3 separate regions of the Homo sapiens genome follow, and regions 2 and 3 are each linked to region 1. The links come from fine-mapping of genetic effects on gene expression. A gene starts in region 1. Each other region holds a variant in brackets. All regions are shown on one strand. Distances are from middle to middle.

Region 1 (8,171 bases):
GGGCCTGATGAACAAACGCCACAGAACAAACTCTACGGACCCTGCCTCCAGATCTGCTTCCTCTCCCCTGATTCCAGCTTCCCAGCCCTATTCCCTCCTCCTCCAGGAAGAGCTCCGTGTCAGTGCTCTCCACCTTGGAGGCCTTCATATGTTTTTTTGCCTGGACCACCCAGCTAACCGTCTCACAGAGACTGCCCCTTCCTCTCTCCAGGCCAAGCCTCCAGCTTCAGCGTCCAGGACTAAGGGTCTGTGTCAGGGGCTGAGGACAGTGTCCGGCAGGGAGCAGGCCTGCCCAGTAAACCTCCACAAGCACCCAGACATACTCGCCACTGCTATTTTACACCAGGTAGGAAAGAGGAGCAGAAGCTCACAGTGAGGGGCCGTCCTGCGTTCACTGAGACTGCTGCTCTGCTGGGGGCTCCCTGGAGGACCGCCACTGGCCCGCCAGTTGTCAGCAAAGAGCCAGGTCCACCCATCAGCCTCTGGCATTTCAGGCCCCTATCATAGGAGGCTATAAGCACAGGCTAGGGGTGCTGAGTGCCTGCCTTCTAGACCAACACTGTCCAGTGGAAATGTAACACCAGCCCCATGTGGAGTTTTACATTTCCCAGCAGCTATGTCAAAAACAAAAGAAACAGGTGAAATAAAATTAAATAGTATTTTGTTTAATCTGATACATCCAAGATATTGTCATTTTAATATGCAATAAAAAATGATTGATTCGATATTTGCATCCTTCACAACCTACCATGTAGTTTACACTCAGAGCCCAGCTCAGTCTCACAGCAAGCACCAGCGGCCCCCGTGCTGGACAGCATGGCTAATGGGAGGAGCTGACCCGTCGGAGGCACCAAGGTCACGCTGTGACCAAGGCTGTGGTGACGCAAAGGCAGCGGGTTTCCTGGCACAGCCTGGAGGTGCACCAGCCTGTCCTGTGTGCTCTGCATAATGTGGTACAGCAGTGGTCACAGAGCTTTGCACCAGATGCTGATTCCAGCCCACCTAGGGGGGTTCAGGGAAGTGGTGACACTTGTGTCCAGCCTCCAGGTGTGAGCAGGGGCAGAGACTTGGAGAATGGAGAAACCAGCGGATGCTGCAGGCAAAAGCAGCAAAGCCCCACCAGGAATAGTGATGGCCACCACCGGCGGGACACCTCCCAGCACTGGGTGGAGGCCTCTGCTGGCTCGCAGTCAGTCACCTGATGTCCCCATTCGCCCCTGCCATGCTTGTTGTCCTGGCAACCCCATTTCAGCCCTGAAACGTTTAGGTGCTCATCTTGCTCTATCTTAGAGATGAAGACCTGATGCTCAGAGACTAAGGAAGTTGAAAAAGGGCACACAGCGTCTCAGGGGCAGGCTGGGCCTTCAACGGAAGGGTCTATGGCCCAGAGGCTGGATGGGCTCGGGTGTAGGGTGCAGGAACCCTCCACTCCACATCAGGCTACAAACTGCTGAGAGCTGTCTCCGTGCACTCAGGATTAGGGAGAAGAGGGGGAAGAAAGACAGCCGCGCCCCCTGCAGGTGATGTGGTGATTCACACCCCTAGGAGCCAACAGAAGCCGCTGTCTAACATCCCTGCCCTGAGGTCCAGAGACCTTGCATTTTATGCCTAGGGCAGGGTTGGTTTCTGCAGCTATGGTCTCTCCCATAGCTTAGTGCCCACCCCGGTGGGACCACAGGGTTTCGGAGGACCCTAGAGGGTCGAGCCCTGGGCTCCTGGCTCTTGGGTTCTTTGAACTCGCGAGCGGCAAAAGGCGAGCCCCACGCCTGAGAGGCAGCATCCACCTCTGCATCCCCCTCTTTGGAAAGGGCAAACAATGACACCTCCTTCCGCGGAGGGTGCAGAGCGCCTCGACCACTGGGAAGAAGCAGATGGGGGCAGCGGGGCTGGGGCTGGGCCCTACCACGTGCTCCCTAACTCTGTTCAAACAGGTCAGGAATCTGACTCCTGAAAGGCAAATGTTAGCTGAGCAGATTGGCCCTGGTGCCACGTCAGCCGGACTGAAGCTCTCCCTGCACCGCCTGCGGCCCTGCTGGCGTGGCACGGATATCACCCCCTCCCTCACCAGCCGCCGGCCCAGCTGGGGACAAGGGTGGCTCCCACCCAGGGAGGACCTCAGCCGCTGCTGGGAGCTCAGCCTCCCGCGATGCCATCGGGCGGGCACCCCCACCACGGCGCCTGCCCTCTGGAAGGAGCAGCAGAGGAAGGCCGCGGCTCTTCCCTGCCCTTGCCAGGCAGGTGTGCAGGTGAGTGGGCCCGGCATGGCTGGCCGCTTCCTCAACCGCTCAGCCTCCCTCGGCTCCTCCGAAAAATGAGGGCACAGAGGATAGTGCCCACCTGTTCCCTGCGATCTTCCGCGGGAGGGCGTGGATGCTGCCTGGCCTGGCCGTGGCAGGCACAGGAGCGCCTACCCGCCTCACCCCTCCGCTGGGTCGCTCTGGCCGCCCGAGCGCCCGGGCCCACTCGCCACCGACGTGCACTCAGCCAAGGCTGGGACCCCAGCGCCCCTGTGGGGCTGGCGGCCGGGGGAACGAACCGAGTAGGCCGCACCTCCCCGGGAGGACAGCAGGGCTGGGGCCAGGGTGGGCCTGGGAGGGCCCGGCGCAGCAAAGGCGCAGGGCGGAGCTTGGGGACGAGGAGCCCGCGCGTCCCCCTTGCGAGTCGGCGGACACCCGGCTCCGCGCGGTGGCCGGGCCGCCCCTCCCTGCCCGGGCCTCTGTGCAGAGCGAAGGGACAGTAGAGGATGCGTCGGGGAAACCCCAGGACGCTGGCCAGGGACTGGCGGCAGCCATCGACCAACTTCCGGCGCCGCTCGGTGCCCGCGGCCACGCCGTAACCAGGCAACCAGCGCGCAGGCGCAGTCGGCCCTCCGCGTCCCGCAGCTCCGGCCGCTCCCGGCGCATGCGCGGCCGCCGCCGCCTGCCCTCCAGCCTCCCAGCCCAACGGAAGAATGCGAGGAGCGCGCCCGCGTCAGGGCCCCGCGCTTCTCAGCTGGGCGGAGTAGCCGTTCTCGGTGCGTGAGCCTGCTGGCATCGGTCCTGCAGACTGATTTCCCGCTTGTGGCCTTGATTGAAGAATCCCATCTCTTCTCACATCTTAAAACGAAAAAAGACTGGGAGAAAGAGCCAGCGTAAACAGGGCGACGTACTGGGACGGCCCCGGCGCGCCTGGCCGGGCAGGTGGCGAGGGGCGGGGCCAAGCGGTGAGGCGGCAGACGGACGCCGGAGGGGGGCGGGGCCACGGGCGGGGAAGGACGGCCGAGGGGCGGGGCCAAAGGGGCGGGAACGACAGGATGAGGCGGAGAAAGACGGACGACGGGCGGGGCTAAGGGGGCGGGACGAAAGAATGAGGCGAGGAACGACGGAAGAGGGGCGGGGCCAAGGGGAGCGGGAACTACAGGATAAGGCGTGGAAGACGGGCGGGGGGCGGGACGAAAGAATGAGGCGGGGAAGAACGGACGCCGGCGAGGGGCGGGGGCAGAGGGGGCGGGACAGAGGGATGAGGCGGGGAGGACGGACGCCGGCGAGGGGCGGGGCCGAGGGATGGGCTGTGAAGGGCTGAAAGAGAACGCGTCTGGGCCGACGAGCCGAGGGGCGGGGCCAGGGGCGGGGCGCGCGCTGATGTCGTAAGCCGGACACGTCGGCGGCGCGGCGGCCGCGGAGACCCGAGCCGGATGTGCCAAGATGGCTGCGGCGGCTGAGGTGTCTGTGCTCGTCGCCAGCGTCGGGTGGGCTTTCGCCCGCGGCTCCTGAGGGATCGGTCTCAGCCGCGCGGGTGAGGGGGCGAGCGCGGGTGAGGGGGCGAGCGCGGGAGGAGGAAGGCGGAGGCCGGCCGGCGGAGCCAGGCCGTGGAGGTCGGGGCGCGGAGGAGAGGAGGCGGCTGGGCCCAGCCCCGAGCGGGCGGTGCATCTCGGGTCCCGCCGGGGCCGGTCGAGGGGACAGACGTCCGGGCCCCCGGGCCAGAGCGGAAGGCCGGACGCGGCGCGGGCCGCCGTGGGACTCGAGGGACTGACGTGGACCCGGCTGGGCTGCGGTGACGCCGGTTCCCGGGGCGGGAGGCTGGACCCCCAGGCACCCCTCGTAAGACTCTTAACTTTTCAAATGAGCGTGTCTTGTCCTCACCGGCTAGAAGGCTTCCTTAGCGATGCTGGTGAAGAGACACATTTACATTTGAACCAAAGAGCAGAGTTGTTTGTTTGTAATTTCTTGATTGGGCGATCAGGATGTTGCAACAGAGGCCGAGGGTTAGAGGAGTGTGTGTGATCCGGCTCGCCCCTTTGTGATGGAAGTGTTACAGTAGAGCCTTCAGAAACATCAGAGCCATTTAAAGTCAGTTTTTGCCGCTTAAGAACACTTTTAAATGGCTTGTAAGTTGGGTGTGGATTGTATATTAAGATTTTGTTTTACATGTGTGATGCCGATGTTAACCAAAGAGGTATTTCCCATCCCCCATGTGGCAATACGAAGCAAACGGAACCGCAGACGGTTCTTCCTAGAAGTGATACTTTTGCAAGTTTCAGCACAATGCAGCCTCCCTGCGTTTTTTCCTCATCCCCTTTCTTAAGTTTCAGGTGCTGGTATCTTGTAGACAAGAGGCAAAATAGCGTGTCTTTCTTGTTCCTTGTTCCTCGTTTACTGTTAATAGTGGTTACTACAGTGAGTCTCAAAATTGTACTTAAAGTTTTCTTTGAGGCAGTGGGCACTTTTTTTTTCTTTTTCTTTGTCTTTTTTTGCCAAATCCAGCAAGAGGTCATGGTAGTGGGTAAATGTTAATGTGATTTCTTCTTCTGTAAGCATCTTTCATGAATACCAGGGTCTTCGTCATTTTCATCAGTGTTAGGCTGCTGGCCTCCTCTGTCGCTGGCTTCCTCTTCAACATCTAACTGTATGTGGTTGCGATTCTAACTTAGAAGAGTTGGAGTTGATCATGTCTTTGTGTCAAGCATCCCACAGTCTGACAGGGCGTCACTAGCAGCCACCGTGAGGGAGACTGTAGGCAGTAGGTAAACTCAGGGGCTTCCTGGCACACTATTGTTTTCCTCACTTAAAATATGAAGCCAGTGGCAGCAAGAGGAGAGGGGTGTGCATGCATTTTAAATGCCTCAGTTCTGTAGCCAGAACTGTACTAAAAAGAGTTTTGCTTAGGTATCCACATGGTTACAAGGCAGTTTAACTGACTAGCTAGGTTTATGAATACTGCATTTTCAAGATCAGCTGGCCTCTTTGGAACAATAAAAGAATTAGATGACTTGAGGTTACAGAATAAAATTCCCTGGGCCGGGCGCGGTGGCTCATGCCTGTAATCCCAGCACTCTGGGAGGCTGAGGCGGGCGGATCACGAGGTCAGGAGATCGAGACCATCCTGGCTAACACGGTGAAACCCCGTCTCTACTGAAAATACAAAAAAAAATTAGCCGGGCGAGGTGGCGGGCGCCTGTAGTCCCAGCTACGCTGGAGGCTGAGGCAGGAGAATGGCGTGAACCCCGGGGGGCGGAGCCTGCAGTGAGCCGAGATCGCGCCACTGCACTCCAGCCTGGGTGAAAGAGCAAGACTCCGTCTCAAAAAAAAAAAAAAAAAAAAAAAGAATAAAATTCCCTGTAGTGGTGACATAGGTGATAGGCAGTTGCATTGTTTTTCTCCTGGTGAGTAGAGAAAAAGATCAAAAAAATCAGTTCAAGTCACAAGATTGTTCCAAATGAAAGTGGCATGTTGCTAAAAAGCTCTCAATTAGGGAGCATGAAGGTTGGAATGCTCCTTGTAAGTGATAATGTTTGCCATAAAAAAGCTCTTAGTCTAGGAGAGCTGCGGAATAATTTTTTTTTTTTTGAGACGGAGTCTCGCTCTGCCCAGGCGGGAGTGCAGTGGCGCGATCTCAGCTCACTGCAAGCTCCGCCTCCCAGGTTTACGCCATTCTCCTGCCTCAGCCTCCCGAGTAGCTGGGATTACAGGCGCCCGCCACCACGCCCGGCTAATTTTTTGTATTTTAGTAGAGACGGGGTTTCACCGTGTTAGCCAGGATGGTCTCGATCTTCTGACCTCTTGATCTGCCCGCCTCGGCCTCCCAAAGTGCTGGGATTACAGGTGTGAGCCACCGTGCCCGGCCACCCCTGTTAAACAGCAGGTGGGATTAGGACATCCCAGAATCCACTGTGAGTAGAATCTCATAAGATTAAACCCGGGTTTTTTAGGAAAAAATAATCACATCGATTCTCGCATTTTATAGACAAAAATACATTGCAGAAAGAGGAGTGGCTGCCTCGAGCCACTCACCTGGACACTCAGTTTTGCTCTCACAGCAGCAGCCAAGGAATAAACCTCTAGGCCCGTGCTCTGTGTTTAAAGCAAACAAAAGCTTTTGAGGATGATAAGGATCTTCCCGGGGAAGGCCATGTCTTGAGAGATGAGGTAGGACCCCAGTTCTGGCAGCAGAGTTTCAGGAGGTGCTTGGAAGTTTGCGTGTTCTGGCCGTGGTTGCAGGTGTCGCTGTGTCTGCTGTGGCTGTGCAGCTGGTAGGACCCAGTGGAAGATAATGCCAGTGCACAGATCAGAGGAAGATGCTCTGCCTGTTCTCCTTTCAGTCCATATAAAATAGAGCTGTGAACATTCTTTGTTTTCAGATGAGAGCCTAAAACCTCCATGAAGCCTTTGCTGCTGTTCCTAGTAAATAGCTTGACTTAAAATACATTGATCAGTGTTTTCTTCTTTTTTTTTTTGAGACAGTTTCACTCTGTCGCCCAGGCTGGAGTGTTGTGGCTTGAACAAGGCTCACTGCAGCCTCAACCTCCCTGGCTCAAGCGATCTTCCCACCTCAGCCTCCCGAGTAGTTGGGACTACAGGCACGCACCACCACGACCGGCATTTTTTTTTTGGTGATGGGGTATCGCTGTGTGTTGCCCAGGCTGGTCTCAAACTGCTGAACTCGAGTGGTCCTCCTACCTCCCAAAGTGCTCGGCTTACAGGTGTGAGCCACTGCACCTGGCCAGTGTTTTCTTCTTTTATCTGAATATCAGAAAGATTTCCAAGAGACCAAAATAATATACATCTGCAAAGATGTGTGGATTGGCCAGGCACGGTGGCTCACGCCTGTAATCCCAGCACTTTGGGAGGCCGAGGCGGGTGGATTATGAGGTCAGGAGATCAAGACCATCCTGGCTAACATGGTGAAACCCCATCTCTACTGAAAAGACAAAAAATTAGCCTGGCATGGTGGCAGGTGCCTGTAGTCCCAGCTGCTCAGGAGGCTGAGGCAGGAGAATGGCATGAACCTGGGAGGCGGAGCTTGCAGTGAGCCGAGATCGCACCACTGCACCCCAGTCTGGGCGACAGAGCAAGACTCCGTCTCAAAAAAAAAAATGTGTGGATTAAACTACAGAGTCCTCCCCTTTGGTTTAATTTTTCCTTTGATTGGCTAAACTTATCTGTTTGTTCATGAGGGTGGTGCTGACAAGAAGAAAGACTGATAGAAAGAAAAGAACTTTCCTAAAGATATAGTCCTTGAATTTTTGCCTTAAGAGGCCAGGTTAACTATTCAAGTTTGTATCTACTATGTTTTATTTAAAAACTGATGGAGGTTTTTGCCCCTTTCTTTTCTGTAAGAGGTTTCTTGGCAATTCTGCCTGTTGTTGAAAGTGTTGGAATCCAGTCTGTGCCTTGTAAAGCTGCTTTAAGTTTCCTGGGAGTTTCCATTCCAGGCACAGTTACGGCTCCAGTTCAAAGGTAACATCTTGCTGGTGGTCCTTTCAGACCTTAAGCCAGTCACAGTACAAAAACGGAGACCTATGAAGAGGTGTGATAAAAGGCATTTAGATGAATATATTTATTTTGCAGTGCTTTTTAAAAAAATGATTGTGTCACTTTTTATTTATTTATTTTTTTAAAATAGAGACCGTCTTGCTCTGTTGCCCAGGCTGGACCGCGGTGGTATAATCATAGCTCACTGCAGCCTCGAACTCATGGACACAAGTGATCTTCCTTCCTTAACCCCCTGAGTCCCTGGGACTACAGGTGTGTGCCACCATGTCTGGCTAACTTTCTTCTTTTGTAGAGACAAGGTCTTGCTATGTTGCCCAGGCTGGTCTCGACCTCCTGGGCTCTGGCAGTCCTTCCACCTTGACCTCCCAAAGTGCTGGGATTACAGGCATGAGCCACTGCACCCAGCCTATTTTGCAGCTT
Region 2 (8,171 bases), 52 kb after region 1:
GTTGGGGCAACGGGCCTGGCCGAGAATCACCTGCTCAAGGTGAGCGGGAGGGCGGCCAGCGGGGCACGCGTAGGGGTGGCTCAGGGACAGGGTGGGCAGCACGGGCTGGGGTCATGGTGACGGGAGGGTCATACAGGGGTGGTCGTTGGACAGACTCGTGCTTGGAGAGGGAAACAGGCCGAGGGCCAACGTGAGGCGTGTTTGGTGTGTCAGAGGCTGCCTCGGAGACCGGGCAGCTCCCTTTTTGGCCCTGGCCTCAGTTTCCCCTCATTCGGAGGAGTCGCTGGTACTCAAGGCACCGCAGTGGGATTCACCCACAGGCGCCTGCAGGTTTCGGGAGGAGCCGGCCCACCACATGCTCCCTCCTTCCAGGAGCTCCCGCCCAGCCTGGACGAGTTCCTGCTCCCAGCCGAGGCCGACTATGCCCAGGACCTGTATGTCATCGGGGTCCAGGAGGGCTGTTCTGACAGGTAGGGCGGCTGCAGGCCCTGCAGTGCCTGCCCAGGGGCTGCCGTCTCTGAAGCAGCTGGGTGCTGAGACCTGTGGTCATGGCTGGGCACGGGTCTGCAGTGCCTGCCCGGGGGCTGCCATCTGTGAAGCTGCTGGGCGCTGATACCCGGTTCGTGGCCGGGCACAGATCTGCAGTGCCTGCCCGGGGGCTGCCGTCTCTGAAGCTGCTGGGCGCTGAGACCCGGGTGGCGGCCGGGCACGGGCAGCCTCCACGCCTGGGTGGGAGGCATGGGTCAGATTTTTTTCCAGTGGCAACTCGGAGAGTTTAAAATCAATGAGATTTGATTTTGGTAACAAACTGTTGGCGTGCGAGAGTAGAAGGGCAGCCGGAGCAGGGCCGGGCCCCAAGGCCTCCCGGGCCCCCATGTCATGGCGGGAACAGCAGGTGGCTGCCGCCCACACAGGTGCTCTGGGGGAAGGAGTTGAGGTGGGCCCCACCTCCCTGGCCCATGAGTCCCTCAGGCGGGAGGAGCTCTGCTCACTGGGGTCTCGGCGGGGGTCCAGGGGAGCCACTCAAGTGGAACTGGGGCCTGTGGCCCCCGGCAGGTCCCAACTCTGGCCCACCAGGCCTTCTGGCAATTGCTTCTCCGCGCAAGACACCAAGGCCAGGTCGTGGGGTTTCCCTGGTAGCTCCTCGAGGGGCTCTGGGCAGCAGGTCTGGGGGTGGCGGAGCTGGGAGGCCATGTCCCCCAGCCGGCCGTGCTTCCTCCTCTGCAGGCGGGAGTGGGAGACTCGTCTGCAGGAGACGCTGGGCCCGCACTATGTGCTGCTGTCCTCGGCGGCCCACGGCGTGCTCTACATGTCGCTCTTCATCCGCAGGGACCTCATCTGGTTCTGCTCAGGTGGGCGCGGCTGGAGGGGTGGGCGCGGCTGGAAGGTGGCAGCGTCCCACAGGTGAGCTGAGGGCTGCCCCTCCCACAGAGGTGGAGTGCTCCACGGTGACCACACGCATCGTGTCTCAGATCAAGACCAAGGGGGCCTTGGGCATCAGCTTCACCTTTTTTGGCACTTCCTTCCTCTTCATCACGTCCCACTTCACCTGTAAGTTGCTTGGTGCCCGCACCGCAGGTGCTGTGTGAGAACAGCTTCCTCTCCTGACCGGGACCCTGTCCAAGGCAGGGGTCCTGACCGCTGGCTTCATCTTCCACCCAGGGCCGTGGGGTGGGCACCACGCTTGCTAAGATGCACGCCAAGGACCCCCGGCAGACCCCGGCACCGAGGGCGTGCCGTGCTGGGCCCGTGCTCTGTCCTCCGAGGCGGAAATGTCACTGGCTGGGCCCGGCAGCGGATGCCCGGTGGGGTTGCGTCTGCCGGGGGTGCGCAGTCAGGGCACAGTCCAGAGGTGCGGCGCTTTAGGGAGACTCGAGCATCCGGAACCCTGTGGTCCCTACCCCATTTCTGTTCCCACAGCAGGTGACGGGAAGGTGGCGGAGCGGCTGCTGGACTACACCAGGACTGTACAAGCCCTGGTCCTGCCCAGAAATGTGCCCGACACCAACCCCTATCGCTCCAGCGCAGGTGAGGGCGTCCACGCTGCGTGTGGGTGGTGCCGCCGTGGTTCGCACACGGGCGCCCGTCGTTTTTAGGGCAGTTCTGAAGAGGCAGCGTCCTGAGCTTTGGGAAGCGAGGGCCGAAACGTCCAGTGCCCCCAGCGCATGGCCCCTCGCGGTTCTTTAGCACGGTTAGTGGGGTGGGCGGATCCTGTCCACTCGGCGTGGCCCACTAGCCTGGGTCCTGGTCCTCGCCACTGCCCGCCCCGCCGCCTCCCCTGGCTGTGTGGAGAGGAGCAGGGACGTGGCCATCGCCTGCCATGGGCATCGTCTGCTCCTGAGGCTGCTCCAGGTGCCTTCTGGAACTGTCCCAGTGCGAATCCCACCCCTGAGGGCCCGGCCCCACCGGCTGGCGCCCAAGACCCACTTCCCCTGAGAGCCACTCCCAGGCCATGTTCTGGGGAAGGGGAAGGACCTGCCGTCCCTCTGCCTGTGCCCACACATGGCCCACTGTGCCGCAGCGGACGTCACCACCCGCTTCGATGAGGTGTTCTGGTTTGGAGACTTCAACTTCCGCCTGAGTGGCGGGCGCACAGTCGTGGACGCCCTCCTGTGCCAGGGCCTGGTGGTGGACGTGCCGGCGCTGCTGCAGCACGACCAGCTCATCCGGGAGATGCGGAAAGGTGAGGGCCTGGGGGGGCGGGCATGGAGGGAGATGAGGAGAGGTGAGGGCCTGGGGGGGCGGGCGTGGAGGGAGATGAGGAGAGGTGAGGGCCTGGGGGGCGGGCGTGGAGGGAGATGAGGAAAGGTGAGGGCCTGGGGGGCGGGCGTGGAGGGAGATGAGGAGAGGTGAGGGCCTGGGGGGGCGGGCGTGGAGGGAGATGAGGAGAGGTGAGGGCCTGGGGGGGCGGGCGTGGAGGGAGATGAGGAAAGGTGAGGGCCTGGGGGGGCGGGCGTGGCGGGAGATGAGGAAAGGTGAGGGCCTGGGGGGGCGGGCGTGGAGGGAGATGAGGAAAGGTGAGGGCCTGGGGGGCGGGCGTGGAGGGAGATGAGGAGAGGTGAGGGCCTGGGGGGGCGGGCGTGGAGGGAGATGAGGAGAGGTGAGGGCCTGGGGGGGCGGGCGTGGAGGGAGATGAGGAGAGGTGAGGGCCTGGGGGGCGGGCGTGGAGGGAGATGAGGAGAGGTGAGGGCCTGGGGGGCGGGCGTGGAGGGAGATGAGGAGAGGTGAGGGCCTGGGGGGGCGGGCGTGGCGGGAGATGAGGAAAGGTGAGGGCCTGCGGCGGGTGGGGGGAGGGTGGGCGTGGTGGGAGATGAGGAGAGGTGAGGGCCTGGGGTGCGGCGGCTGGCACAAGCTGGTCTGAGCCAGTCCGAGTGCCCATCCTGTGGCAGGGTCCATCTTCAAGGGCTTCCAGGAGCCGGACATCCACTTCCTCCCATCATACAAGTTTGACATCGGGAAGGACACGTACGACAGCACCTCCAAGCAGAGGACGCCCTCATACACGGTGAGGCCTGCCCACCGCTGCGGTGCAGAGTGCTTCCAGGGCAGGCATCTCCCACAGCCGGGAACCGATGCCTGGCGTCAGGGGTCTGAGCCTGGACGGCCTGGACTTGAAACTCAGCTCTGCACCTTGGCCTTGTGGCAAGTCCCCTTTGGTGGAGAACGGCGCCCTCTCCATGGGTGTTTTCAAGGCTGGGTGAGCCGGCTGGCACACAGGGCACCAGCCATGCCCTCGCCTCCGGCCTGCAGAGCCTCTGCCCTCTGCCCGTTGCACCCTCGCTCACCCTCCTGCCAGGCCCATGGCTGCATCTCTGGGCATGTCCCGATATCTGGATATCTGCTGGAAGCCTCAAGAAGCCACTGAGGCAGGGCAGGGTAGGAGCAGCCGCTGTCCACAGGGTCTCTCCAGCGGCGAGGGACAGGCCCTGGCCCAGCTGGCCACAGACGCCAGGCAACAAAATGGGCATGAGTGTCAGGGGTCCCAGAAGGCTTCCTTGTGGGGGGCGCTTGAGAACAGCAGGGAGGTGAGCGGGCCACGCCCCACGGCTCCTCACAAGTAACTGGACCTCCTGCCTCTGCAATCTTCCCAAAGGACCGCGTCTTGTACAGAAGCCGCCACAAGGGTGACATCTGTCCTGTGAGCTACTCTTCCTGCCCCGGGATCAAGACGTCCGACCACCGCCCTGTGTATGGCCTCTTCCGGGTGAAAGTGAGGCCGGGGCGAGACAAGTCAGTGTTCTCCCGCTCACCTTCCCCCTTGGGCCTGGGGGTCGTGCC[G/A]TCGTCCCATGAGCTAAGAGGGTCCCTGTCATCGTGGGGTTCCACTTGGGGCTTTGTTCTGGGACCTTCAGGGCTGTGTTCCCCGGGATCGGTTGGACTCATCCTGGAGCAGGAGAAGGCAGGAAGGGGAGAGGCTCTGGAAAGTGAAGAGAGGCCCAGCTGGGGGGCTGGGTGTGGCCAGCTGGAGGGACGAAGGCCTTAAGCACTCAGGCATCCGCCCTGTCCTTCCTGCGGCTCTGTCCCAGGAACAGGCCTCCGTGTGCTTAGAGGCAGGGCCAATCTGGGCCAGTGCCCACCTAACAGCCCCTCATCCTGGCCCTGGGTGTCCTCTTAAATGCCCCCTCCTCCGGGGCCGGCCCCCTCCTAACGCCCCCTCCTCCTGGCCCTGGGTGCCCTCCTAACGCCCCCTCCTCCTCCACAGCATTCCGTTGGCAGCTGGCAAATTTGATAGAGAACTGTACTTACTAGGAATTAAAAGACGGATTTCGAAGGAGATTCAGAGGCAGCAAGCACTACAGAGTCAGAACTCCAGCACCATCTGCTCCGTTTCTTGAAGTTTGCTGAACGAGGACTCACAGCTGCAACGTGGGGTGATTGTATTGATCAAAACCCACTGGGAAGGACAAAGAGTTTGCCGCCTTTCGGGGATCCGAGGGACTGTGGCGACCGTGCCTCTGTGCCAGCGTCCCAGGAAGGAAGCCAACCCTGAGCGAGCCTGTCCTCTGTGGCAGGTCCACACGGTGTGGGTGGGCAGGGCTTGGACCCCCGTCTCCATGGCAGGTCCATACAGCATGGGTGGCAGGGTTTGGACCCGCCCAGCAGCACCACGGACCCCAGCCACTCTCGGGGGCAGACGTCAGAATCCGTTCCTGAGCAGCTCCTGTGCCCTGGGGGCAGTCACAGAGCCCCCCAACACCCCCGTGCTCTGCACCAGCCTCTCCCTCCACACCCGAAGCAGGCGTCCATCTGTGTCCTCCTGGCAGCCCCTCAAACACACACCACCCCATGTCACACGGGTATCCAGAGCAAGGCTGGATCTGGGCTAGGTGACCCCTGGGGCCTCAGACCTCTGAGTGGGCCCCAGAGCCCAGCTGAGGAAGCCACACAGCCTCCAGGACGTGGCACGGTTCCCCTCCACTTGGCTGCAAGTCGCCTGCCATGGGGCGAGGAGGCCTGCACCCCAGTATAAGGGCCTCCCCAGCTGAGTAAGAAGCTGCTTCCCCTCCTCTCATAGGCCAAGCCTATTGTGTGAAACCATCTCATGGTCTTGGTGACGTAGACCATTTTTGAAACCGTCTCATGGTCTTGGTGACGTAGACCGTTTGCTTCTTTAACTCCAGCCGCGGAATGACATTAGTGGAACCGGGCTAGGGAACTGCTGGAAGTTCAGGATGCCACCACCTTGAACACCTAGGCCAGGGATCCCCACCATGTCCCGGGTTTCTTTCTTCGAGAGTATAGAACCGTTCATTCTTGCTTTGTGTCCCATTCCATCTCTTGAAAAAATGTAGTCTTTGAATGTGTGAAAATCTAGGGACATTCAATCTAGTCTTTTAAATTATTTTTCCATATTTATATTTTTAAATAAATGCATATATTGAGTCTTAAAATCTCTTTCTGGCCAAAGACTGAAACCTGGAAGCAACAATATACATGCATATCCCGTTCTCACAATGTCCTTGTTTGAAAGGCTGTAAAATCCACAGGCAAAAAGTTTGGTCTCAACCCTCAACAGCTGACTATGATCTTGTCCGGTTCATCTCTGCTATCTTTAAAATCCTACATTCGGCTGGGTGCGGTGGCTCACTCCTATAATCCCAGCACTTTGGGAGGCTGAGGCAGATGGATCATCTGAGTGGTGGGCAAATCACAAGGTCAGGAGTTCGAGACCAGCCTGGCCAACATGGTGCGACCACCCCTGCATCTCTACTAAAATTACAAAAATTAGCCGGGTGTGGTGGCGGGCGCCTGTAATCCCAGCTACTGGGGAGGCTGAGGCAGGAGAATCACTTGAACCCAGGAGGCAAAGGTTGCAGTGAGCCGAGATTGCGCCACTGCACTCCAGCCTGGGCAGCAGAGCAAGACTCCATCTCAAAATAAATAAATACATAAAATCCTGCATTCCTAGTTCACTGCCCAAGAGATCAGCGTTAGATGGAAAAGAGTCTTTTGAGGAAAACACAAATACTTGAGACCTGATGAACCACGCTGGTTATCAACAATTCAGTGAATAATAGAAAACTTTTATTAGCAGCATCTTAAAAAGTAGGGAAACAAACACCCAGTCTCTTGATAAAAATGAGTCTCTTGGGCCAGGCGTGGTGGCTCATGCTTGTAATCCCAGCACTTTCGGAGGCCCAGGTGGGCAGATCACAAGGTCAGGAGTTCAAGACCAGCCTGGCCAAATGGTGAGACCACGCCCCCCCCCCCCCATCTCTACTAAAAATACAAAAATTAGCCGGGTGTCTGTTGTCCCAGCTACTTGGGAGGCTGAGGCAGGAGAATTGCTTGAACCTGGGAGGCGGAGGTTGTAGTGAGCCAAGATCCAAGATCGTGCCACTGCATCCCAGCCTGGGCGACAGAGCGAGACTCCTTAAAAAAAAAAAAAAAAAAAAAGTCGTCGATAGAAATTCCATTAATGAGAGGGCACAGCCAATCTCATCTAATTTCAGTCAACTAGTCTGATGTCCTGTATGTATAACATTTTGGGCTGGGTGTGGCGTGTGTAACATTTTGGGCTGGGTGTAATTCTAGCACTTTGAGAGGCTGAGGAGGGCAGATTGCCTGAGCTCAGGAGTTCGAGACCAGCCTGGATAACACAGTGAAACCCTGTCTGTACTAAAACACAAACAATTAGCCGGGTGTGGTGGTGTGCGCCTGTAGTCCCAGCCACTCAGGAGGCTGAGGTAGGAGAATTGCTTGAACCCGGGAGGTGGAGGTTGTAGAGAGCCAAGATTGCACAATTGCACTCCAGCCTGGGCAAGAGTGAGACTCGTCTCCAAAAAAAAAAAGACTTTGCCTGAACAAATGTGCCCTAAGTTTCAAATTAATTCATTGAAAATCTGTACCAAGATGTTTATGGTAATGGGGCTTCAAATGAGTCCGCTTTTATGGCTTCTTCCTAGGCCTCTTCTCCGACCCAAACAATTGTTAAAGAGATTCTGGTCCGACCCTGGAGTGTGTTCACGTGGCTTGACAGTAAGAGGCTCCAAGTCTTCCGGCGGCGGCGGTGGGGAGGGCAGGATATGACGTGTCTAGTAAGATCATGGATCGAAAGTCAGGTGATTCCCTTGGCACTCACCGCTAGATCTTAGATTAATGGAATTTCACTCAGAAAGGAGTTTAAATGAATGCAAATGATGTTGGCCAATCTCTGGAAAATAAAAGAATTGTTAAATACGGCCAGGCACAGTGGCTCACATCTATAATCCCAGCACTTTGGGAAGCTGAGGCAGGAGGACTGCTTGAAGCCAGGAGTTCGAGACCAGCCTGGGCAACCTAGTGAGACCACACCTCTAAAACAGCAATGAGCACGCCTATAGTCCCAGCTATTCAGGAGGCTGAGGTGGGAGGATCCGCTGAGCCCCAGTGGTTAAGGCTACCGTGAGCTGTGCTTGCATCACTGTACTCCAGGGCTAGCCTGGGCGACAGAGCCAGACCTCATCTCAAAAAAAAAAAAAAAAAAGCTGGCTCGATAGTAGTGGGTTCTTAGAACCTAATATTAGTGTCAACTTTGGTATCCTATCCTCCAGTGCTAAATTTGGCAAAAGAAAAAAAAAACGTGGCCAGGTGCGGTGGCTCACGCCTGTAATCCCAGCACTTTGGGAGGCCCAGGTGGGTGGATCACCTGAGGCCTAGGCGGCTGGTCAGGAGTTCACCACCAGCCTGATCAA
Region 3 (8,164 bases), 33 kb before region 1:
TGTGTCGGGGGTCCAGGCAGGAGCCGGACTGGACCTCAGGGAAGAGGCTGACCCGGCCCCTCTTGCGGCAGGCTTCACCGGCCAGAACTGTGAGGAAAATATCGACGATTGTCCAGGAAACAACTGCAAGAACGGGGGTGCCTGTGTGGACGGCGTGAACACCTACAACTGCCGCTGCCCGCCAGAGTGGACAGGCGCGTATACGGGTCGCCGCAGGGCGGGGTAGCCGGGGCGGGGCTGCTACCCACTTACTAAACTGCACTCACAGGCATAGCGGGGAGCAGCCGAGACCCTGTCCCAGGCCAGGCAGACTAGGGTTGGCCGAGAAGGACAACATGATGGGGGCCCCACTTCCCGTGGCCAGGGTCTGGTGCCCCTCACCTCGGGGGTCAGCACAGACAGGGCCCTGGTTGGTCTGTGTGGGCCGTTTGCAACCTGGCTCCAGGCAGCCCCTGTGCCCAGTGGGGTGTCCTGGCATTGAGGGCCTTCAGCACCCCACTCAGGCCACGCTTCCTGGGCCAGTCACAGGGATGCCTGGATGAACAGACAGGCCCTGTGTTCGGGAATTACCCTCTGGTGGGGTGACGGGCAAAGGTGCACCCCGACGCAGCAGTGTCCACAGAGCACAAAGAGGAGGCAAGACTCCATGGTGCTGGGCCTGCAGAGGAAGGAGTGATTTAGGCTGGCGGTGGGTGGAGGAGTCAGCCCAGGAAGGCTTCCTGGAGGGGGCGGCATTGCCACCCTGCGTCTTAGGGGACAGGGAGCTCAGGGAGTGGCAGCTGCCCGGGGCCGACAGCTCCTGTTCCCTGCAGGTCAGTACTGTACCGAGGATGTGGACGAGTGCCAGCTGATGCCAAATGCCTGCCAGAACGGCGGGACCTGCCACAACACCCACGGTGGCTACAACTGCGTGTGTGTCAACGGCTGGACTGGTGAGGACTGCAGCGAGAACATTGATGACTGTGCCAGCGCCGCCTGCTTCCACGGCGCCACCTGCCATGACCGTGTGGCCTCCTTCTACTGCGAGTGTCCCCATGGCCGCACAGGTGAGTGCCTTGAGGCCCAGGTGGGCGCAGGGGGCTCACATGGGCCAGGCCTGAGCTGTGTGACCTCACCCAGGGACTGTGGCCCTCCTGCACCCAGGATAACCTGAAAGGGCCTTTCTGGTCAGGGAGGCCGGTGGTCGCTGTGAGTCCCCCGGAACGTCCCAAGTGTCACGGGATGCCCGACGGGGTCACGGCGGGCAGCTCCTCCTGGGGTGTCAGTGGGGTTGGACCCCAGCCGTGGGTGGTGTGCCATGCCTGGCCCAGGGGCCGTGCCCACTGACCGCCGCTGCCTGCCCAGGTCTGCTGTGCCACCTCAACGACGCATGCATCAGCAACCCCTGTAACGAGGGCTCCAACTGCGACACCAACCCTGTCAATGGCAAGGCCATCTGCACCTGCCCCTCGGGGTACACGGGCCCGGCCTGCAGCCAGGACGTGGATGAGTGCTCGCTGGGTAGGTGCCAGCACAGGGGGTGCGGCCAGGTGGGGGTGGCAGCCTGGCCCCAGAACCGATGAGAAGTCGATTCTGGCTTCAGGGGGTGCCCAGTTAGATGGGGGATGGGACCCTGCCAGTCCGATGGGGGTGGTGTGCAGTGAGGTGTTGCAGGGGCCAGGGTGCCTGGAGCAGCCTCTCACCCGTGTGCCCTCGCCAGGTGCCAACCCCTGCGAGCATGCGGGCAAGTGCATCAACACGCTGGGCTCCTTCGAGTGCCAGTGTCTGCAGGGCTACACGGGCCCCCGATGCGAGATCGACGTCAACGAGTGCGTCTCGAACCCGTGCCAGAACGACGCCACCTGCCTGGACCAGATTGGGGAGTTCCAGTGCATCTGCATGCCCGGTGCGTCGGCCGGGGCCAGGGCGGGAAACCGAGTCGAGGCTGGGCAGCCTTGGAGGGGCAGCCCCGGGAACATCTGTGGGTTGCTTCCGCTTTCCCCAGCCTCCATGCCTTCTGGGCCCACAGCCTGCACAGGGCATGGGGAAACTGAGGCCAGGCCACAGGGCCAGCAGAGCACGGGGGCAGTGCTAGGCAGATGAGGGTGCCGGGCCAGGGGCCACGGGCTGCAGGGGAGCGGGTGCGCAGGGGGCCCGTGGTGGCTGGGACACTGGGCTGGAGGCAGGGTTCGTTTCTGTCCCAAGTCCACAGCTGTGCCCAGTGGGGCACTGGGGCCGCGCGTGCCCCCCTCACTGTTGCCCCACCCCACAGGCTACGAGGGTGTGCACTGCGAGGTCAACACAGACGAGTGTGCCAGCAGCCCCTGCCTGCACAATGGCCGCTGCCTGGACAAGATCAATGAGTTCCAGTGCGAGTGCCCCACGGGTGAGGGCCACCCCCGCCCCCTGCCCCCGGGTCGTCTGCACCCTGGCCTCCTGAGGGGTGCCTGGGCGTGGGTTGTGTCCCCTGCCCCCGGGCCATCTGCACCCCGGCCTCCTGAGGGGTGAGGGCCGCCCCCACCCCCTGCCCTCGGGCCGTCCGCACCCCGGCCTCCTGAGGGGTGAGGGCCGTGGGTTGTGTCCCCTGCTCCTGGGCCGTCTGCACCCCGGCCTCCTGAGGGGGGCCTGGCCGTGGATTGTGTCCCCTGCCCCTGGGCCGTCTGCACCCCGGCCTCCTGAGGGGTGCCTGGCCGTAGGTTGTGTCCCCTGCCCCTGGGCCGTCTGCACCCCGGCCTTCTGAGGGGGGCCTGGCCATTGGTTGTGTTCAGATTCCCAGGAGAGCGAGGGTTTTGCCTCATGAGTGGATGGGAGTGTTTTCAGACTTCCCCGAAGGAAGGGCAGGGCCCAGTGGGGAGTGGGAGCTTGCCCAGGGGTCGCGGTGGAGCCCAGGGCCAGGAGATCCTCCTTGATCTGGGTGCAGCCCCTTCTGCCTGGAGAGAAGGGTATACCAGGAGCTGCAGTGCCCAGACAGGGAGGAGGCTCCAGCCTGGCTTTCTGAGGGCTCGATGCTGGGAGGGAGGCCAGCCTGCCCTGTCCTGCCATGTCCCCTGCCCAACGGCACGCCAGCGACAAGGGTATGCAGAGAACCACGTGGGGCAGGTTGGCCTGCAATGGAGATGATGGCTGCCCGGGGCGGACTTGGAGGAACTCTCAGGGGCCTGGGTGAAAGGTGTTTCCATCTGTCCCAGAGCTGGGGGCCGGGGCGCAGAGCCCAGGGAGGCGTTGCCAGCCCAAGCCTAGGCTCCCAAGACATAGATTACCCGTCCCAGACACTGGAGCGAGGGGAGCCCCATTCTCAGCCCGGCTCCACTGTAGCCATAGCAACCCAGTCGGTTTGGGAAAAAGGCCCCTTCTGTGGGAGCGAGGGCGTGTGGTGCTGGGGGAGGGGCTTTGATCCGGGGAGCGGGCAGCGGGAGGCAGGGAGAGCTGGAGCTGGCTGAGCTCAGGCTGAGTGTGCCCTGGGGAGCCCAGCCAGGCGCTCACTGCTGGGGTCTGGCCAGGGGTCCCTGAAGGGCCATAGTGCTGTTGCACATGACTCCCTCCCCTCCCCTCCCCGGCCCCAGGCTTCACTGGGCATCTGTGCCAGTACGATGTGGACGAGTGTGCCAGCACCCCCTGCAAGAATGGTGCCAAGTGCCTGGA[C/T]GGACCCAACACTTACACCTGTGTGTGCACGGAAGGTGCGGGCTGGCGCCCACCAGCGGGGAGGGACTGGGGACGGGACAGGGCACTCAGGGCAGTGAAACTGACAAGGTCATGGACACCTTGGTCTGGGCCACCTGGTCCAGAGGCCGAGAGCACAGCTCAGCCCCAATCCTGAGTAGGTGGGAATGCCACGCTCGGAGCCCTCCTCAGGTTGGCACAGGTGACCCCAGGTCTGGTCATGGGTGTCCCGGGGGCCGCCAGTCCTAAGTCTTCCTGTGCCCGCCCCTCCCACGGTCCAGGGTACACGGGGACGCACTGCGAGGTGGACATCGATGAGTGCGACCCCGACCCCTGCCACTACGGCTCCTGCAAGGACGGCGTCGCCACCTTCACCTGCCTCTGCCGCCCAGGCTACACGGGCCACCACTGCGAGACCAACATCAACGAGTGCTCCAGCCAGCCCTGCCGCCACGGGGGCACCTGCCAGGACCGCGACAACGCCTACCTCTGCTTCTGCCTGAAGGGGACCACAGGTGGCCGGCCAGGCGGGTGGCCGGCGGGGGGCCAGTGGGCAGGGCGGGCCTGAGGACTGACCGACACGTGCCACCCCTTCAGGACCCAACTGCGAGATCAACCTGGATGACTGTGCCAGCAGCCCCTGCGACTCGGGCACCTGTCTGGACAAGATCGATGGCTACGAGTGTGCCTGTGAGCCGGGCTACACAGGTGAGCGGCCCTGCACGTGGGGGCTGACTGCACTGTGCTCAGAGGTCAAGGTCAGCCACTCTGCCCTGGGGCTGCTGAGGGGTTGGGTGAGGGCTTTGGTGCTGCCCACCTGGGCAGACCGTGGTCTGCAGCAGAGATTGCAGCGGGACCAGGGCTATAACTGGCAGCACGATGGGTCCCCCCGACCCCTCTTGTCTCCGGTCAGAGCTGTCCCAGGCCGTGTTGGCAGAGTGGCCCAGCAGGCCAAGAGGGAGCAGCCAGCCCTGAGGCCAGGCTTAAGTACCTTCTGCCTCTGTGGCTCACCAGCACCTTTGAGCAGGTCCCTCTGCCTCTCTGGGCCTCAGATTCTCATCAGTCAGGGCTGCAGTAGCCCCTGCCCCTGGGGCCCCTGGGAGGATGACTTGAGTGGGCACTGGTGCCCGGGGAGGCTGGCACATGGCACATTGTGATCCAAGATGGTTTCTGACACCTGGAAGGATGTGGCCAGAAGGGTGATCGCCCCGGCTCAACAGACAGGGAAATCGAGGTTGACGTGGGTGGGACCCCCTGGGCGCTGGGCCTCGGAGTCTGACCCGCCCTGCCCTTAGGGAGCATGTGTAACATCAACATCGATGAGTGTGCGGGCAACCCCTGCCACAACGGGGGCACCTGCGAGGACGGCATCAATGGCTTCACCTGCCGCTGCCCCGAGGGCTACCACGACCCCACCTGCCTGTCTGAGGTCAATGAGTGCAACAGCAACCCCTGCGTCCACGGGGCCTGCCGGGACAGCCTCAACGGGTATGCGGCGGGGCCGATCATGGGGACACATCAGTCCTAAACCCTGGGAGCTCTGCTGCCAGGAGGGTGGCACCTGCACAGAGCTTGAGATGGGCCAGAAACGGGCCTCGGACGGGGCTGGGTGGCAGGGAGCTCCCCTCGGGGACGCACATGCCTCTGGGTCCTCAGTCAGACTACAGTCCACACCCAGCAGCTGTGTGCTGCGTGTCCTTGTGGGCTGCATGGTGTGCTCAGGACACAGGCCCACAGTGACCCTGGAACACGTTTCCATGGTAACAGCCGCAAGTGTTTCTGATGCCCATGATGTGCCTGGCAGCACTCTGCCTGGATGGGACCATTTAAATCAGCAGGGACCCCATTGCCCTCATTTGGCGCAGAGAAGGCACGTGCTTTGTTCGGGGCCACACAGCGGGCAAGTGGTGGGGGGCTTTTCGCAGCACCCTACTGCCCTGCACTTGGCATGGTCCCCTCGCTAATGAACCAAACCCCTGCCGCAGTCTTGGGTATGGGAAGCGCTGCGGCCCCCACTTTTTTCTTTATTTTGAGACAGAGCCTTGCTCTGTTGTCCAGGCTGGAGTGCAATGGCATGATCTCAGCTCACTGCAACCTCCACCCCTCAGGTTCAAGTGATTCCCCTGCCTCAGCCTCCCGAGTAGCTGAGATTACAGGCATGTGCCACCACACCTGGCTAATTTTTGTATTTTTAGTATATATGGGGTGGGGGAGTTTCGCCATGTTGGCCAGGCTGATCTTGAACTCCTGGCCTCAAGTGACTCAGCCACCCCCGCCTCCCAAAGTGCTGGGATTACAGGTGTGAGCCACAGCGCCCAGCCTGCCCCCACTAAAGGACTCTGCGAGTCTGAGTGGATGGGCACCTCCGCCAGCCCATAGGGCATTGCAGACCCGGGAGTGCCCAGGCCCCGGCCGTGCTGCTCGGGCCTCCCTCGACCTGCAGTGTGGTCCCCCTTGCAGGTACAAGTGCGACTGTGACCCTGGGTGGAGTGGGACCAACTGTGACATCAACAACAATGAGTGTGAATCCAACCCTTGTGTCAACGGCGGCACCTGCAAAGACATGACCAGTGGCTACGTGTGCACCTGCCGGGAGGGCTTCAGCGGTGAGTGGGCTGCGCGTTTCTCAGTGCAGAGGGCCGCCCTCGAGTCTGGGGAGCTGGAGACACAGGATCGGGACCCAGGTCCAGCCAGCACCATGCATGGTGTCTCCCTCCCGTGGCAAAGCCTTAGCTCCAGGCCTCTGGCTCTTGGAGATGAGGAGGGGCCTGGGGTGGGGAGCAGGCCCAGGGCTGCTGTTGTGGGGCCCTGCCAAGGTGCCTGGGAGTGCTGGACATGCCGAGTGCTGTCCCCTTCCCTCCAGGTCCCAACTGCCAGACCAACATCAACGAGTGTGCGTCCAACCCATGTCTGAACCAGGGCACGTGTATTGACGACGTTGCCGGGTACAAGTGCAACTGCCTGCTGCCCTACACAGGTGAGGGGTGGGTGGGGCCTGTGCTGGAGGGGGCGGGGCCTATGTGGGAGGGGCGGGACCTGTGCTGGAGAGGGCGGAGCCTGTGCTGGAGAGGGTGGGGCCAGGGGTGGGGGCGGCCTGGGAAGCCGTGACTGGAGGGTAAAGTGGTGGCTTTCTTGGGGCGGGGCCTTCCAGAAGGTTCTGCGCCTCACTGAGTGCCTTAGGCCCCTGCAGTATGTGGGCCTTCTCCCGGGGGTGGGGTTGGCAGATTAGCAAAGATACAGGATGCCTGGGAGAAAATTTTCATGCAAGCATGTGTTTTACCTGGCAAGCCTGCCGCAAGACACAGGTAAGATGCAGGTGAATCCTTAGCAGGGCCGGGCCTGGGTCACTGGGCTCCGTGCTCCCGGCGCCCACCCTGCTGGGGTCTCTGGGGGCCGGGCTTCCCCACCCCCGCCAGCCGGACCTGAGGGATTCCTTTGATGGCGGGCTCTCTTTGTGTGAGCGGAACAAGGAGCCCTCTGTTTGGGCTGAGCGGGGAGGGGGATGTTCCCCCAACTGTCCAGCCCCTGCTATGAACCCAGCCAAGGGGATCACAGGAAATGATCTCCTCTAGAAAAGACAAAGAAGAGTCCACAAGCACCGGGGTCCTGGCGCTCCCCAGGAGCGGGCAGAGGGTGCTGCCACGGGGCCTGGTCAGGGAGGGCCTGCCTGGGCCAGGCAGCCGGGCTGGAGGTCCCACGCCTGCGGTTCCCATGACATCCAGCAGCCTGTGGCCAGAACGCTGTTTTCTTTGACCGAAGTTAAGGACCTGGGTTTTCTCTCCTGTGTCAGTCAGTGAGGACCCTCCCTCCACGGCTGGGCGCCCCTGTCCCTTTCAGACACGTCGATCGGGCCGGCAGGAGGAGCGGCGGTGCTGACCCGCTTCCTATCTGCCCGCTTCCTGCTTCCTTTCGCACAATTGTCGGAAACTCTGGCGCAGTTCCTGCCTGCCCGGGTCACCGTGGAAACCAATAGGAAGAGAGGCCCTGGAAAGTCGCCCCAGCAGGCCAGGGAGATAATGGGGGACAGGGAAGATAACGCAGTCCCCACGGCTATAAACAGGAAGCTCGGCCATGGGCTTGTGCAGAAAAAGGCCCTCGGCTGTGCACGTGGTTCCCACATAGCCTTTGCCAGACACCCTGCGTGGCCCTGGAGGTCTCCAGGCCGTGCCCCGTGCCCCGACACGCAGGATGTGCTGGGGGCCTGGGCCTGTCCCCTCCATCGCAGCCCTTGTTTGTTGGCCTCCCGTGATGGGCGTTTGCTGCCTGTGACACGGAGCCCCAGGATTAGTTTCAGGCCTCGGTCTCAGGCCAGGGCCTTTCCTCGTCACCCAGAGATGAGGGGGCTTGCGTCCGGGGTGGGCCCAGGTCCCTGCAGTGTCGTGGAGCCCACCCGACTGAGGCCGCCTCTCCTGGTGCAGTCCTTGTTCCTGGGCACGCCTGGTGGGGTGAGGCCTAGGCTGTGCCCCGCTGCCAACCGGGAATGAGGGGTGGCTTCTGAGCGTGACATTTGTGCAGCTTGTCTTCA

The links.
Region 2: its variant is fine-mapped to the expression of SEC16A in fibroblasts (GTEx, PIP 0.92).
Region 3: its variant is fine-mapped to the expression of SEC16A in whole blood (TOPMed, PIP above 0.99).

Annotation. Positions count from the first base shown.
Region 1 is chr9:136,478,541-136,486,711 of GRCh38, reverse strand. SEC16A (SEC16 homolog A, endoplasmic reticulum export factor) reads left to right here and starts at 3,672. Exons shown (of 32, transcript NM_014866.2): 1 at 3,672-3,774; 2 at 7,882-8,003. C9orf163 (chromosome 9 putative open reading frame 163) reads right to left here and starts at 3,217. Exons shown (of 1, transcript NR_172629.1): 1 at 645-3,217. RefSeq lists silencers at 2,560-2,989, 3,140-3,319, 3,390-3,499, 3,730-4,049 and enhancers at 2,289-3,033, 3,779-4,524.
Region 2 is chr9:136,426,336-136,434,506 of GRCh38, reverse strand. It overlaps INPP5E (inositol polyphosphate-5-phosphatase E), which reads left to right. Exons shown (of 10, transcript NM_019892.6): 3 at 373-470; 4 at 1,228-1,352; 5 at 1,432-1,551; 6 at 1,921-2,028; 7 at 2,522-2,683; 8 at 3,390-3,505; 9 at 4,094-4,230; 10 at 4,700-5,888. The coding sequence ends at 4,832. Among named protein-coding and RNA genes, the nearest start is that of INPP5E, 9.4 kb to the left of the region's middle. The variant G/A (reference allele first, on the strand shown) is at 4,279.
Region 3 is chr9:136,511,473-136,519,636 of GRCh38, reverse strand. It overlaps NOTCH1 (notch receptor 1), which reads left to right. Exons shown (of 34, transcript NM_017617.5): 5 at 72-194; 6 at 813-1,046; 7 at 1,345-1,500; 8 at 1,700-1,885; 9 at 2,252-2,365; 10 at 3,543-3,656; 11 at 3,921-4,154; 12 at 4,237-4,347; 13 at 4,935-5,127; 14 at 6,100-6,245; 15 at 6,503-6,616. MIR4673 (microRNA 4673) reads left to right here and starts at 11; the gene lies at 11-69. The region is part of intron 1 of LOC124902310 (a long non-coding RNA gene); the gene reads right to left. The variant C/T (reference allele first, on the strand shown) is at 3,622.